Regions from separate parts of the Homo sapiens genome. Here region 1 is linked to region 2. The links come from fine-mapping of genetic effects on gene expression. A gene starts in region 2. The other region holds a variant in brackets. All regions are shown on one strand. Distances are from middle to middle.

Evidence for each region. PIP is the estimated chance that this variant, and not a neighbour inherited with it, causes the effect.
Region 1: its variant is fine-mapped to the expression of ECHS1 in whole blood (INTERVAL, PIP 0.96).

What each region holds. Positions count from the first base shown.
Region 1 is chr10:133,276,988-133,285,280 of GRCh38, forward strand. TUBGCP2 (tubulin gamma complex component 2) reads right to left here. Exons shown (of 18, transcript NM_006659.4): 13 at 8,098-8,226; 14 at 6,895-7,015; 15 at 6,091-6,234; 16 at 5,236-5,355; 17 at 4,286-4,449; 18 at 1,648-2,914. The coding sequence ends at 2,779. Among named protein-coding and RNA genes, the nearest start is that of ADAM8, 4.3 kb to the left of the region's middle. RefSeq lists a silencer at 1-130 and enhancers at 1,286-1,335, 1,826-1,905. The variant C/T (reference allele first, on the strand shown) is at 4,434.
Region 2 is chr10:133,369,323-133,377,640 of GRCh38, forward strand. ECHS1 (enoyl-CoA hydratase, short chain 1) reads right to left here and starts at 4,032. Exons shown (of 8, transcript NM_004092.4): 1 at 3,924-4,032; 2 at 1,238-1,435; 3 at 582-709. The coding sequence starts at 4,011. It overlaps MIR3944 (microRNA 3944), which reads right to left and starts at 2,341; the gene lies at 2,234-2,341. It overlaps LOC124902563 (a long non-coding RNA gene), which reads right to left. Exons shown (of 2, transcript XR_007062395.1): 1 at 7,338-8,318; 2 at 5,414-5,884. RefSeq lists a silencer at 3,795-4,304 and an enhancer at 4,686-4,775.

The DNA.
Region 1 (8,293 bases), 92 kb before region 2:
TTTCCCCTCTCCCCACAATCCAGCATCCTCCCTTGCACAGGTGAGGAAACTCAGGCACAGCCTGTCCCAAGTCCGGCCAGAGCCCCGAGAGGGGGCCTCTCGAAGGACCCGGCGGCTGGAAGGAGGTGGCGCCAGGCAGGTCCTGGAGGGGAAGGGACTTGTGAGGGCCGCCTGGCGGTTTCAGGAGAGGGGGTCTCTGATTTCCTGGGGAACAGAAAGCCTCAGGCAGGGGCAAGTCATGGCTTTGTGGGCATAGGTTCAGCCCTGTGGGAAGCTCTGCCACCCTCCCCCCCAAGCCTGCGCCCCCTCCACCAGGCTGAGGCCTCACCGGAGTGGGATAGGCATGGGCCCGCAGGCGTCCAAGTGGGGAGGGGGAGCCCTAGGTGGGGGTCCCAGCCCAGGTGATGGCAGGTGCAGGGGCCGTCCCTAGCCTAAGATCCCCAGACAGCAGCTGACGCTGGCCGACGTGGACCAAAGCCTGCAGCAGCCCACCGTGGCCTGGCTCCGGCGTCTCCAGGCCTGCGGCCAAGCGTGCTTGCCCTTGGTGACCACATTCCCCGTGGTGGGCTCAGCCTCGAGGGTGCAGGTTTGGGCTGACACCACAGCTCCCCAGACGGTCCACCCAGGACCCCTCCCTGGGGCTTTCACAGCCAGGCCGCCCTCCTGGAGTGGGAACAGTGGTGGTGGCAGGAAAGGCAGCTCAGATGACCACACAGGGCGCTGCTGACAGATCACATGGGGGGGGGGGGCCTCAGGGCCTCCCTGGGGAGAGGCAGGGCAGGGCCAGCAAGGGGCTGGAGGGAGTCCTGCCTGGAGAGAGGGCACCAGGGCAGGGCGAGTCAGGGAACTGCACGGGCCTAGGGGCAGAGGACAGAGGTCAAGGGGCAGTGGCAAGAAGAGGCCGGGGCCTCGGACGTTATCCTGGGAGGACAGGGAACCCGGAGGATCTAAGCTGGCGTGAGTGATGCTGTCACATTTTGTCTCAAAGCCATTCTTACCCTAATGTGAATGGCATGAAAAGCAAGAAAGCAAGGGCTGGCACTGGGCCGCAGGTGACTTCTGCTGCCTGGGGGTGTGTCCGCTTGCCTGTGTGGCACAGGACGAGGTCCCCCAGGCTGCCGAGAGGCTCCCAGGTAGGGCTGGGGATACTGGCCTGTGCCTGAGCTCATGCAGGTGACCCTGTTATTATAGAACAATGGCCAGCTGGCAATCACACTTCCCTTCCTTGACCTCATGGTGCAAGTTACTCAACAGCAAAGTGCAAAGGCGGCACGCTGGCCACATCAGAGGCACAGCAAGGCCCCTGCCGACGCTGAGCTACCAGGGATTTATTCCTAAAAAGACAGGACCAGCTTGGGCCAGAACAGGCTCCTCCCGCGCTGAGGAAGTTCCACCCAATCCCACAGAACACAGCTCTCCTCTTCAGCAGGTGCCGGGGGGTCTGGGAGCCTGAACCCCACAGCCCTGGAGGCTTCCCTCCCCTCCTCCTATCACCACCTGCAAACCCCACTTCTCAAGGCCCAGGGCTTCCCAGACCCCAGGACACAAGATCAGGGGTTTCTGGGCCTCGGGGCCAGGCAGGAAAGCTAGCAGGCTCCTCTGCTCACCAGTCCGGCATTTGCACAACACTGAGACTGACAGCTTGGGTTGCTGATAAATGTGTTTACTCACAGGCCAGACCTGCACAGCCTGCAGACAAGGAGGAAGCGGTTTGTGGCTGGAGAGTTGGACACCCCCACCCCCACTCGGCGGTGCTCTCAGTGAGGCAGCCCCGGGTGAGAGCTGCCCACAACCCTTGTTCCCCGCAGGATCCTGTTCTAGCTATCCTTTCTCCCAACCTCGCCTCCAGGGCCCTTCCTCACTGCCCAAGGGGGCCGAGGTGCTGAGAGCTGAAGGTGACAACAATACACATGCAGGTCAGCAGGAAGGGGCAGCTTGGCCAGAATGTAACCAGAGCAGACCAACCTGGCCGGGCAGCCCTGAGGCTCCCAGGGCCCTGTCACACTGGGGATGGCGGTGCTGCCCACTGTAGCCCTGGAGGTGGGAAGACAGGGCAGATGATCGCCCGAGGGGGATTGGGTGTCAGTCTGCTGAGTAAGTTCTACGTAACAAGGCGGTACCGGATAGGGCGGGGTGGGGTTTCCAGCCAGCAGCAGAGCCTGCCCCTCGACCCACTCCCACGGAGGGGGAGGTGTGGGCTCCCAGGGTGCCTGAGGGCCCTGTCTGTGGCCTCCTGCCCTGGACCAGTTGGAGCAGCAGCAGGAGGAGGGTCGTGGAGGCGGGTGAGTCCTCAGGAGAAGGAACGGGGCTGCCTCTGGGGCCAAAGCAAACCCGACACCCGATGCCCGGTGGGTTTCCACAACTCCCTGACCGTTTCCAGAGGCTTGTCCCGGTTCCGACAGACCTCAGGAAGCCCGGCCCCAGCTCACCCGGAAAGATGTGGACACCAGGCCTGGATCTTACCCCACATGCATCTTTGCTTGCTCCTGGCTTAAACACCATGTATTTCCACTTTGAGGCCAAAAACACCCAAAAAGGTGATAGTGTAATTTCAAAAAGCAAACAGATTAGCAAATCCAGGGAGACATCCACCCTGCCTGGGCAGCTTCTATAAAACGAAACCCAGCGCCTTGAGAAACAAAGTGAGCTGAGTCAATCATTCCTGCTTTATATTTAAACTGCAAAGACAGAACACAGAGCATTCGATTTGAAAATTCTGGACCCATTTGCACCAGTCCCTGCTGACCCCACACCCTTCCTTCCTGTCACAGCCAGGGCTCACTGTGCGGTGACTGCGACCCTGGGTGCAGGAGCCGGGGGCCCCCGCAGGACAGGCACTTGGGGGGTGGCCTTCTGGCTCCTCTCTGCAGACAGGCGCTCCAGGCGCTCCGTGTAGAAACCATTGAAGTCAAGCCTGTGAGGAAGGACAGTGGAGCTGGGGTGCACACCCCTTCTGCGGGTGCATGCTGGGCAGCAGGGGTGTGGAAGGACGGTGCAGCTAGGGTGCACACCCCTTCTGCGGGTGCGTGCTGGGCAGCAGGGGTGAGGAAGGACAGTGGAGCTGGGGCACACACTCCTTCTGCGGGTCCGTCCTGAGCAGCCCTGCTCCTACCATGGGGAAGTGTTCAGCTACAGAGACCATAAGAGGCCCTGCAGGGGTGAGGGTGAGGCACGCTCCTAACTAATGTTTCCACAGGAAGGTTTTCAGTCCTGTTCAGTCCTGCTCAAAGGCACAAACACAGGTTTCTTCTCTCCTGGCCCCAGAAAGTTGGGGCTCCCATCACCCCAACAGGGCCTAGCAATGGGGCCTGAGGTGTCAGGGGCTTGGAGAACCAAGCAGTGGTTCTCAATGCAGGGTGGCCTCAGAAATCCCTGCTCAGAAAATCAGAACATTTGTGGGGGGCACAGGGCACAGGGTGGTCCAAAAGCACAAATAGGCACCTTCCCAAGGACAGCACCCCCAAGGGCACCACCCCTTCCAGGCTGGCAGTTTGGCCACCTGGCCCTTTCCCCCAGGCTAGGTGTTAGTGCAGCATGAGGGAAGCTGACCCAGGCCTGATCAGCCCCACAGGACACACACAGCCGCAGGGTGCCAATGGGGCAGCCCAGTTGCACAGAATGTCACACCCCAGGGAGAGCTGGGCTAGCCTGACTTCAGGGAGTGGCATATGACCAGCACTAGCACCAGGACACAGACCTGCCCCACCTTCTGAAGGAGGCTACACCAGGTGGACCAGGGGAGGGTGCAGGGGAGATGGGGCCTGGATGCAGGGACAGGTGCTGAGCTGGGGTGGCGCTGGGCTGGGGCAGATGCTGGGCTGAGCTGAGGAAGGGCTGAGCCGGGGCAGGCGCTGGGCTGAGCTGGGGGAAGGCTGAGCCGGGGCAGCACTGGGCCAGGGCGGTGCTGGGCAGGGGCAGGCGCTGGGCTGAGCTGGGGGAAGGCTGAGCCGGGACAGCACTGGGCCAGGGCGGTGTTGGGCAGGGGCAGGTGCTGGACTGAGCTGAGGAAGGGCTGAGCCAGGGCGGTGCTGGGCAGGGGCAGGTGCTGGGCTGAGCTGGGGGAAGGCTGAGCCGGGGCAGCACTGGGCCAGGGCAGTGCTGGGCAGGGGCAGGTGCTGGGCTGAGCTGGGGGACGGCTGAGCAGGGACAGCACTGGGCCAGGGCGGTGTTGGGCAGGGGCAGGTGCTGGACTGAGCTGAGGAAGGGCTGAGCCAGGGCGGTGCTGGGCAGGGGCAGGCGCTGGACTGAGCTGAGGAAGGGCTGAGCCGGGGTGGCGCCCACCCACCTGGAGATGACGCTGGCCATGCCGTGCTCACAGTCACTGGTGCTATAGATGCTCAGCCGGGCCAGGAGGTCCAGCAGGTGGGCTGAGAAGTTCTTGTCAAACTTGTTGATGGTGGCCTCGAAGCCGGACACCAGCTGCACAGTGTCTG[C/T]GTGCTCAGCCAGGTGCTGGAAAGAAAGCCGGGGTGCGTGAGCCATGCCCACCCCCACCGTGGGCCTTCTTGGCTCCACACTGTTCCCAGCAGGCCGGTGTCCTTTCCCTTCCCCTTTTCTTAAATAGAAAACATGGGTTCCATGATGTTTTCAGGAGATTCAAGGTAAAAAAGACATCAAAAAACATTCCTGAGAACCCAGCACTCAGAGAAACACTCCAGGCCTCGTGGGATGAGGTGGTCACTCTCCTTTGGGGTGAGATGAACGAGCTTTCCCAGCAGCTTTCTCAGCAAGGAGGTCGGGGCGCCTCTCAGTGTCCCTCACCTCCGGCCCCCACGCTTCCAAACCCAACTCCTCTCTGCCAGCTCCAGCTCCAGCGTGTGAACACGGGACTGCCCACCCCACCATGCCACCCCGGAGCCGGCGCCGCAGGGCCATGCCTCCGAGGACATGCAGCCTGTCCGTGCCTGCTGAGAGCCTGACGGTTCTAACTCAGGACCGAGCTCAGCAGGGACAGCGGGTGTGGCCCCTGCCCTCGCCCAGGCGCCCTGCACAGCGCTCGCTCTGAAGATCTGTGGGGGTTCCCTCGAGCCCGACTGGCTGAAGTGGGGACCAGAGAGCTGAGAAGATTGTGAGAGGCTCTTGTGCTTGTGCTTGGAAGCTAATTTTAAGTCTTTTCTTCAATCTGAGGGGAGATGGAAGTAAAAGGGGGGAGGTTTGTTCTCCCTGCGTCAGGATGCCCAGGCTGCCGCCCAGCCGGGAGGAAGCGTCTCTCTCTGGCCAAACCTGGAGGCCACGCACCTTCCTGGCGAGCTCCTTCCGGGCCCGCTCCTCGGCCCCTGCGGGCAGCCCCAGGACGGTGCTGTGCTCCAGCGTCTGCCCGCCCAGCTCGCCATCTAATTTCATGCTCTGTGTAAATTTCTAGGGGGGGAGAGTCGCAAGGAAATGCTTCTGTTAGTTACAACCACAATGCTTTGCAGAAAAAACAAGTCCTGCAGGCACGTCACCCTCCGCACCTCTGTTGTAGCCTGCGGCTGGGGGTACACAAGCATCTCTGAGGCTGCAGGGGAAATGACTTATCTGTGCCGACAGAATTCCCAGGTCTACCTTCCACGGTGACCAGCTGATTTTCCTGAGAACAGTTATTTTGGTGTTTCCCTATTTGGGACCCTGAAGTGGCCATGCCCTCCTCCACCTCCCCACTCGCCCTCCTCCGGACCCTCCCCATGGCACTGCCTGGAGAGCCTCATTCTCAGACCCCTGCTTCTGCCACTAGACACGCAGGTTCTGCACCATCGCCAGTCGGCAGCTGCTTGTGACTAGTGCCTGCAGGTCCTTAACGGAATCAAATAGCTCAAGTGCTGAGGAAAAGAGCATGCAAGGGCCATAAGCAAAGGCCCCGGACAGAGACCAGCACCACAGAGGCTGAGGGATGGTTCGGGAGGAACACAGCCCTGCCCACGCTGCCAGGGCAGGGGCTCCAGGAGGGAATCACCCGGCCAGGAAGACCAGGAGTTCTGGAAACACTCAGATCCCAGCGGCTCCTCCACGAACACAAGGGCAGGAAAACGTGAGCAGGCTGCGTGCGGCCACGGTCGGGACATGGTCTGCCCACCCGCGCCTGCCCACCCGATGGTGCTACCCACACCCACGCACCTGCATGCAGTTGGTGAACATGACGCACACAGACATGAGCTTGGAGAAGACCTTCAGCAGCTCGGGGTTGGTGAGCATGCAGTCCTTCAGGCAGGTGTCCAGGAAGCCTGTGTGGTGGCCAAGGACGTCGTCAATGTTGGAGGCCTGCGGGGAACAGGCCAAGCCCCTTCTCAGAAAGACGTGGCTGACAGACGGGCCCTGCATGCGCACGTGCTCAGTTCTGGCTTTGTGCATTCCTGTTTACGCACTTCTACCTCTTAAATGGGCCTTGGGCTTTTAGGGGAAAACTTCCAAACACCACTAAAAAAATGATGGGCACACCCCGAAGGGGTTTCATTTCTTAAGGCAGAAGACAGGAAGGGAGGCTGCGGCAGCTTCTGGAATTTGGTACCAACAGATTCTGCCTTCAGGCCCCTCAGCCTCAGATGCGCAATGTGGGAGAGACAACCTCGGGGCAAAGACGGCTCAGAGTCCCCCTAGGACGGCAGGCAGCAAGGGGTCCCGTGTGTGGCCAGCAGTGTGGGTGCAGCCCCGCCCTGGGGGATCCCTTCCTCTCCCCTTGCCCTGCCTCTCCTGCACTCCGTGTCTCCCTGCACTCCCTGCCTCTCCCGCATTCCCTGCCTCTCCCGCACGCCCTGCCTCTCCCGCACTCCCTGCCTCTCCTGCACTCCCTGCGTCTCCCTGCATTCCCTGCCTCTCCTGCACTCCCTGCCTCTCCCCTCGCCCTGCCTCTCCTGCACTTCCTGTCTCCCTGTGAAAGGAAAGTGGCTTTCAAACGTTATTATCTGTGGAGCTAAAACTCACGGATTTCAGGTTTTTCTCCAGGATGTGCCAGGTCGGTTCCATCACTTCAAACATCATGTAGTATTGAATATTCTGGACGAAGTTGAGCATTCGCTGCCGCAGAGTGAAAGCCCCAGCAAACCTGAGTGACACGGAGGACGGAGGACAGCCATGGAGGACGCGGCCCCGACAGCGCCCACCAAGTGACACGGAGGACGGAGGACAGCCATGGAGGACGTTCTCTGGACGTGGCTATTTCCTCTGCAGAGCAAGCGCCCCTCCCAGCACACCAGACACTCACGGCCGCTGCTCCTGCGTCTGCCCAGCACAAGCTGTCACCGTCTACCAACCTGTGCCCTGCAGGGACACCCCCAGCCAGCTGGACGGTGGAGACTGGGACGCGGGCTCCTTGGTGGACGGACCCCTCGGAGCCCACGCCAGGAAAGTGCCACACAACAGATGCATATTTGTGCTTCATCATCAAGATGAGTTCTTTTTCTTCTAATTTCTTTTTTTCTTCGAGAGACAGGGTCTTGCTGTCGCTCAGACTGCAGTGCAGTGGCACGATCTTGGCTCACTGCAGCCTTGACCTCCTGGACTCAAGCAACCCTCCCACCTCAGCCTCCTGAGTTGCTGGAACTACAGGCATTCCCGGCTAATTAAAATAATTTTCTTTTTTTTTAAGAGATGAGCTCTTGTTACATTGTCCAGGCGGGTCTCGAACTTGTGGGCTCAAACAATCCTCCCTCCTCAGCTTCCCAAAGTGCTGAGATTACAGGCATGAGCCACTGCACCCGACTGGACAAATTCTTATGAAGCTCTGCCATCGACCCCTTTTTTCAACACCCTAGAGGCACAGACCGGCTGCAAAGCACCTCTGGTCCCAGCAAGATGTGGCTGTCCGCTCTCGGGAGGAGCTAGTGTCCTGCACACCGACCTGGGCAGTCTCCATGCCCGTGCAGTCACCACAAGGCTCCAGAGAGGGCTGAGGGACAGAGCCAGCATCCCCTGTGGGGTGGACGGCAGCGCCGTGCAGCCCCAAGACAGGAAAATGAAGCAATGAAGCATTATGGATCTAAAGCCACCAACGTGCGCTTCCAGATGACACTTCCAGAAGCCTAGAAAGCTGTCTACCAGGAGGGCACAAGGGGGGCGCTGCACCACTGGGCAGAGTGCAGCGAGCGCTGCTTCAGGAGGGCATGCGGGGGCAGAGGAAGAACGCACCACTGGGCGGAGTGCAGCGAGTGCTGCTTGGCGGTTTTGTTGCTGATCCAGACGCTGCAGAGCTGCCGCTCCACGTGCTTGCAGTAGAACATGTGCCTGAAGAGCATCTGGTAGCGAGTGAGGGCTTTCCTGCAAGAGACGTGGCGGCACCTCAGGTGGGCCTCCGTGACCGGCGGCGTCGTGGACACGGCGTCTG
Region 2 (8,318 bases):
GTGGCTGTGCCGGGAAAACTCCATCCGCAGACCCCTGGCTTACACGGCAGGGAGTGTCATGAAATGATCACAATCCGCAGACCCCTGGTTTACACGGCAGGGAGCGTCATGAAATGATCACAATCCGCAGACCCCTGGCTTACACGGCAGGGAGCGTCATGAAATGATCACAATCCGCAGACCCCTGGCTTACACGGCAGGGAGCGTCATGAAATGATCACATTGCCTTCCCTATAGGCCAAGATCAGTCTCAGCACTTCAAATAGTCCCAGGACACAGAGCTTTCAAGGGGAGCAAAAGAAGCTAGTTTATAGATGTAGCCAAAGCCAACACCTCTCTTCCCCCACCCTGGAAGAGAGGCTTGCTGGGGAGAAGCTGTCAGGTGAACAGCCACGAAAAAAGCAGATGCCAGGAGGTGTCCTCTCCACACAGTTCCTGGCTCTTTAGCACCATGAGGCAGGAAAGGAGGCTGCTGGCCTGGGAACTAAAGGCCTCTTCAAAATAAAAATCTGTTATGCTGTGTATGCACAGCACGGTTCCTTCAACCACGAGAGGAGGAGACTCTTGGCAGCAACACTCACGGCATAGCCATTGACAGCAGCGATGACTGGCTTCTTGACCTGGGTGAGGTGGTCCCAGTGCTTCAAGAACTTGCTGGAGTAACAGTCCTGGAAACTCAGGTTCTGCATTTCCTTGATATCAGCTCCAGCTAGCAGGAGTGGAAAGGAGGTTCCAGTTACCAGAGAGCAGAGAGCCCACCCATCCTATATCTCTCAGACCAACAAGGAACTTCAGAGCACACCAGACACAGGCAGTGGGGTTGCTGGGCACGGCTGACACCAGGCCACGTGGACAGCTGTAGGGACGCTGTAATGCCAGCTAGAACAGAAGTCACGCAGAGGGGCCCTGAGGCAGGCAGCAGGTGCAAGGGAGGCGCCCACAGAGGCTAGGCATATTTGTCAGGGCATAAGCCCTTGACACACACAAAGCCTGACTGCCAAGGACCTAAACCCCTTTGAAGAAGCTGTTTTGCTGGTGGAGCACATGCAGCTCTCTGGCATACACAAAGCTGCTCATGCAAGCCGTTCCCATGACCGTCTTCACTCGATATTTGAGGAAGTCCCCAGTCGCATGCCTCTGCCATCACAGAGGCGCAAATCTGTCTGGAGGCTTCTCCCAAGGCCATACGTGCCTCCCACATCTGCCCAGACACAAAGGCCTCTGCTGCCGCGCGTACCTGCAAAGGCCTTATCCCCGCCGGTGAGGACAATGGCCCCCACGGCCGGGTCCTCCTCGAAGGTCTTCAGGGCCTGGTTGAGCTCGTCAATCAGGCCATCGCAAAGTGCATTGAGGGCCTTGGGGCGGTTCAGTTGGATCAACCCCACGGTGTTATTCTTCCCTCTTTTTTCTGCGATGATGTACTCAAAGTTAGCACCTGGAGCAAGAAGGCAAAAAGGGGTATCTATTCACACAGGTATCAAACTGGGGAGAGTGGGGGAAGGGATGTGGCCCCATCGGTGGATACAGTGTGACCCCAAGAGGCCCTCTGAGGGCTCCCTGCCGAGTCCTCAGTGGCTCCAGGTGTAGCTCTCAGCCACAAGGATAGATGGTAGCCTTGGTACCATTCTCTCTGCTTTCACATGTGTTTGAACATGTCCTAAAGAAAATCCCCGGGCCGGGCGCGGTGGCTCACGCCTGTAATCCCAGCAATTTGGGAGGCCGAAGCGGTCGAATCACAAGGTCAGGAGATCGAGACCATCCTGGCTAACACGGTGAAACGCCGTCTCTACCTAAAATACAAAAAATTAGTCGGGTGTTGTGGCGGGCGCCTGTAGTCCCAGCTACTGGGGAGGCTGAGGCAGGAGAGTGGCATGAACCCAGGAGGTGGAGCTTGCAGTGAGCTGAGATCATGCCACTGCACTCCAGCCTGGGTGACAGAGTGAGACTCCGTCTCAAAAAAAAAGAAAAGAAAAAAAGAAAAATCCCCAGCACAGAACACAGCCCACAGCCGCTTTCCTTCTCCTAATATGCCTTGGTCAGCTCTTCCCAGGACACCACTCTGGAGACAGCCCTGGACTCTGCTGAGACAAGGCACCAGGAAACACCTTCTTTCAACAAATGCCAACAGGTGAGGGGGTGTAAGGCAGCTCCTTGCACTTGGTACCGCCCCAGTGCCAAGACCTCTGGCCAACTGGACGCAGGGTGGGGGATGTGAAAATCCTGGGTGTTCCTGCAGCATTAAGATCAGGCACAGGTCCGGAGCAGCAGGCCAGCCCGAAAATGGGAGACGCAGGCGCTTCTCGGTTGGCCTGCTGCACAGGACCTGCGCCTGCTGGGTGGACAGCAAGGTGGGAAGGAGACAAAGGACAATGGCGTTCCAGGGGTGAGAAGGTGAACCTGAAAAGACAAAGGTAGCCTGTGTGTTGGATGCTTGCCTCCGTTAGTGGCAGAGCAGGGATCATAGTCCCTGTGCTATGGGTTTCTTTTTTTTGGAGACCGAGTCTCACTCTATTGCCCAGGCTGGAGTGCAGTGGCGCAATCTTGGCTCACTGCGACCTCTGCCTACAGGGTTCAGGTGATTCTCCTGCCTCAGCCTCCCGAGTAGCTGGGACTACGGTCACACACCACCACACCTGGCTAATTTTTGTATTTTTAGTAGACATGGGGTTTCACCATGTTGGCCAAGGTGGTCTTGATGACCTCAGGTGATCCACCTGCCTCAGCCTCCCAAAGTGCTGGGATTATAGGCATTAGCCACTGTGCCCCGCCGTATCCTGTGGGTTTCTAGGGGTAACTGGAAGATCACAGGTGAAGTGTCTGGCAGCAGTGCCCGCCATGCAAGATCCAGGAAAGGGCTGCTGTCAGGGTGGAGAAGCCGAAGGCCAAGGAGAGCATGGAGATGAAACCAACACAACTCAGTGGTCCACTGCTACACAGGGTGAGGGAGGAAGAGGAAGCAAGAGTTCTTCCCCAGCCCAAGGCATGGCCCAAGATTCCTCAGATACTAGAGCCGGTGATGGCCGCTCATGAGTGGGGCCCCGGGTGAGCCACGAGGGAGGAAGAGGGCAGCCCCCTGTGGCTGGGGAGGAGGTGTCAGCTTTTCCCTTAGGACCCTCTGAGGGGTGGCCCTGGTCAGGAGGCACCCAGGACAAAATGCACCTGCATCTCCTGTTCTCGGGCTGGCCGGCTGCACAGGAGCTACGCCTGCTCTTAGAGCCGAGGGAACACCCCGGATTTTTACAACCCCCACCCTGCGCCCAGTTGGCCAGAGGTCTTGGCACTGGGGCAGTACCAGCCAGCCGCCGGGCCTCCCGCAGGACGTGGCCTGGTGAGAGTGGCCTCCTGCAGAGCCAGGCAGGGGGTGGGGGTGCGGGCCAGGGTCAGGTGGGTGGTGTCGGTGCGGGGTGGCGGGTGGTGGGGGGGTGTTAAGCCTGGGTCAGGCTGTGGGTGCGGGTCAGGTGGGGGGTGCAGCACTAGGCGAGGGGGGTGTTGCAGGCCTGAGCCAGGCAGGGGCTGCGGGTCGGGGTCAGGTGGTAGGTGCGGGGTCAGGCAGGAGAGTGCGGAGTCAGGCCCTGGGGATGCGGGATCGGACGGAAGAGGGGTGCGGGGTCAGGCCGGGGGGTGCGGGGTCAGGTGGGGGGGTGCGGGGTCAGGCGGAGTGGGGTGCGGGTAGGGGTCAGGCCGGAGGGTGCGGGGTCAGGTGGGGGGGTGCGGGGTCAGGCGGGGGGGTGCGGGGTCAGGCGGAGTGGGGTGCGGGTAGGGGTCAGGTGAGGGTGCGGGGTCAGGCGGAAGAGGGGTGTGGGTTGGGGTCAGGTGGGGGATGCGGGGTCAGGTGGGAGGGGGGTGCGGTCTGGGATCTGGTCTGGGCGTGCAGGTCGGAGTCAGGAGGAGATTCGGGCCGCCAGCTCTCACCGCGCACTCACCCGAGGCGAAGGGACGCCAGGCGGGACAGCGAACCGGGGGCCTCAGCGGGCCGCGGACGCAGGACAGCAGGACACGCAGGGCGGCCATGGCTCTCTGGACTCCTCGCCCGGCCCCGCGGAGCCGCCCCCTCGCCTATAGCCTTTCAGGGCTCGCTCCGCCCACAGGCCAGCGCCGCGAGACCAGGCGGCCCTCGCGAGATCAGCCCGGGCAGAGTGAGCGGGTCGCTCTCCGCCAGGCCCCGCCCCCAGGCCCGAGCTGCCGCTCGCGGATCTAAGGCCGAGGGGCGTCCCCGGGACCCCGCCCTGGGCTGGGACCAGCGCCCTCCAGGCCCCGCCGCAGTCGCCCGCGCCCCCGCCCCCGCCCCAGCCCTCGGGGTCCCAGCTGGCCCCGGGGAGACCGCGCGGAGGCGGAGGCAACGGCGGCGCCTGCCGGGCTCTGCGCCGCCTCCCCCCGCCCGCCTGCCCGCCTGCCCGCCTGCCCGCCTGCCCGCCTGCCCGCCTGCCCGCCTGCCCGCCGGCGTCTGTAGCAGCGGACACAGCGCGCCCAGGCGCAGGGCCAGGCACGGTGGCAGCGGCGTGGGCACTGAACGCCACATTAGGAGGAGTTTTATTTTCATGCACACAAGACTTCAACAGATTTAAATAATAAAAATTTCATTCATTTAAGTTATTTTATTTATACCTTTTAAATATCTAGACAAGTATTGTGGAGCATCCATTTGTGTACTTGCCCGGATTCTGCAAACGCCAGGGTGGAGATAAAACCACCCTGGATAAAATGGAATGGAAAGCGAAACTGCTATTGTGACCGGTGGAGGGTGTCCAGGTTCTTGACGTCTTGAACAAAGAACTGGACAAAACGCACAAACAAAGCACGGAAAGAAGGAAGCAACAAAAGCGAGATTTATGGAAAACAAAAGTGTGGCCGGGCGCGGTGGCTCAGGCCTGTAATCCCAGCACTTTGGGAGGCCAAGGCGGGCAGATCACCTGACGTCAGGAGTTTGAGACCAGCCTGGGCAACATGGTGAAACCCCCCTCTCTACTAAAAACACAAAAATTAGCCGGGCGTGGTGGTGCACGCCTGTGGTCTTAGCTACTCGGGAGGCTGACGCAGGAGAATTGCTTGAATCCGGGAGGCGGAGGTTGCAGTGAGCCGAGATCGCACCACTGCCCTCCAGCCTGGGCGATAGAGCCAGACTTCGTCTCAAAAAAGAAACAAGAAAAGACAACGAAAATAACTCCACACTGTGGGAGCGGCTGAGCATAGCGGCTCAAGAGCCCCGTTACAGATTTTTTGGGGGGGTTAAATACCCTCTAGAGGTTTCCATTGGTTACTTGGTGTACGCCCTGTGTAAATGGAGAGGACACTTCTTGTCATAGCGGAAGTGTTTCCATTTGATTTAGTTCTAGGGAGTCAGCATGAATTGGCCTCCAGACCCTGTTCTCCTGCCTCACTATGTTCAAGAAAATAATTCAATTCAAACCAAAAATGAACATGCACCAAAATTTTATTTCAAGACCGAGGGTAAAAATGAAGACATCTCGTGTAAGTAGAAACAAATCAACAACAAACCTCAACAAACCTTTAGTAAACGATGCTCTATACTAGTGTAGTTAAACCTCTGGGACAGACAGGCCCAAAATGAAATGGCTCAGACAGAAAAGAGGTTTATTTCCTTCCTTCCTTCTCCTTCACCTTCTCTTCTTTCCTTTCTTTCTTGTCTCGCTGTCACCCAGGCTGGAGTGCAGTGGTGTCATCCCGGCTCATCATAGCTTGCGCCTCCCGGGTTCAAGCGATTCTCCTGCCTCAGCCTCCTGAGTAGCTGGAACTACGGGTGCTTACCACCATGCCCGGCTAATATTTGTAGTTTTTTAGTAGAGTCGGGAGTTTTGCCATGTTGGCCAGGCTGTTCTCGAACTCCTGACCTCAAGTGATCCACCGGTCTCGGCCTCGCAAAGTGCTGGAATTACAGGAGTGGACCACCGTGTCCGCCAAGAGGTTTCCTTTCTAACGACCCAGGAGGCCGGGCAGCTCCCGTCCTCCATCAAGTAATGTAGCCACAAAAGCACAAGCAACAAAGGGAGAACATATGTAAATTGGATTTCACCAAAATTTAAAACTTTTATGTCTGAAAGGACACTACCAAGATAGTGAGAGGACTGAACAGACATTCCTCCAATGAAGATAATCAGTGTCAGATAAGCTCAGCATCACGAATCATTAGGGAAATGCAAACTGACCCCTCAGTGATACGACGTCACACCTACTGTGCTGGCTGCAATAAAAAGCCCAACAGTCACAGCGGGTTGTGGGGGACGTGAGCGGGGAACGCTGGTACACTGCCAGCGGGAATGGAAAATGGTGCAGTCACTTTGGAAAACAGTCTGTTGTTTCCTCAAAAGGTCAAACAGCAACTCCACTCTTAGGTGTACACCTCAGAGAAATGAAGACAAATGTCCACAAAAACTTAGACATGAACGTTCATAGCAACATTATTCATAATAGCCAAAAAGAGGGAAAAAGCCAATTGTCCATCAACTCATGAATGGATAAACAAAATGTCATATATCCAAACAATGGATACATTAGAATGTATTAGACTATACAATGGACTCTATTCAGGAGTAAAAAAGAAAGAAGCGCTGATACACATTACAAAATGGACAAGCCTTGGAAATGTTATGCTCAGTAAAAAAAGCCAGACACAAAGGCCGTGCATTGAATAGGTTCCATTTCTATGAAATGTACAGAACAGGCAAATCCACAGAGACAGAAACTAGATTAGCGGTCACCAGGGGCTGGAGGGAGGGGTAATGGGGGGGACTGCTGAGGGGCATCCCCATTTGCTTTTTAGGGTGATGAAAATGTCCTAAACTTGGGGCCAGGCGCAGTGGTTCACGCCTGTAATCCCAGCACTTTGGGAGGCCAAGGCAGGTGGATCACCTGAGGTCAGGTGTTCGAGACCAGCCTGGTCCAACATGGTGAAACTCCGTCTCTACTAAAAATACAAAAATTAGCCGGGCGTAGTGGCACATGCCTATAATCCCAGCTACTCAGGAGGCTGAGGCAGGAGAATTGCTTGAACTTGGAAGGCAGAGGTTGCAGTGAGCCAAGGTAGTGTCACTGCACTCCAGCCTGGGCAACAGAGCAAGACTCCATCTCAAAAAAACAAAACAAAACAAAAAAGTTCTAAACTGGATGATGGTGACAGTGGCACAACTCTGTAACTAAACTGAACACCATTGAATTGAACACTTTAAACGGGAGAAGTCTTACAGCATGATGTCTATATCAATAAAGCTATTTTAAAAAATGAACAAGCCTGATTCAGTCAAAGCCACATGGGTAGTTGCCACCTTGATCACCATAGGTGGCATCACCCAAGGCCCTCTGGAGCTAGGAGAAGCACATACCTTGTACCAGTCAGATGGAAAAGAGGTTGTGTCCGTGTGTTCCAGCTGGTGGCTCTGGCATGGCAGGATTGTCCAGGACTGGCCGTGGTCACGTGCACTCTCCATTTCAGAGCAAGGGGGACGAGCGACTAACCCAGCCCCAGGTCAGCGCGTCAGCGGCCCGTGCTATTGGATTCAGGCTGTGGCACCACATCCAGGGGACAAAGAGCGCGTCGGTTGTCCCCACCCTGCAGCTCTTGGGTCCATGTCTTCTCTCTCCGCGCCATAAAGCCAGAGTTCCCATTTCAGTCACTACAATCACCCCTCCTTGCACCAGGCCTTCCAGGTGTGGGGCATGGGCATGTTTACCTCTGGCCTGTGTGGACCGCTGTGGGGAGGCTTGGCCAGCAAGTTGCTGAGCCAAGTATCTTTTATGGGATCCTGCCGCTCCACAGGAGGATCCGGGAGGCTGAACTAGAGTTAAGTTAGAATCTTTCGGTTCCCCTTCGGGCTGGGCTCCCCGCAGGAACCAGGAACGGGCTGGCCAGGAGGACATGATGGACCGGGAGAAGGTGACAGAGGCAAAGCCAGACCCTTCCTGTTCCATCTTGCAGAGGCTGTCCCAACGCGAGGTGAGGCCAGGTGCCTGGGGGACATCGATGCCTGACCAGAGCCCAGCCTGGACAGCCTTCCAGCAAAGGCTGGGCACTGGCCGACCGTAACGGCCCAGGAGAATGAGGACACGGGAGTCTCGGGGCTGGAGGAGCTGGCTGACCAGATGGTGCCTGACACGGTGCTGAAAACAGGGCAGCAGTCCCCAGAGGCTGAGGGGCCAAAGTAGCCTGTCCACCCAGAGTGGCGAGGCCCACGCCTGTGCAGGAGGCCTGAGGCATGGGGTGGCCTCCCTCACAGCTGTGCCCACCCAGCCTGTGCGCAGGGCGATGTGCTCCTATGTCTGGGCAGTGAGCTGGGCCCTGCGGCGAGAGCAGCAGCAGCTCGATT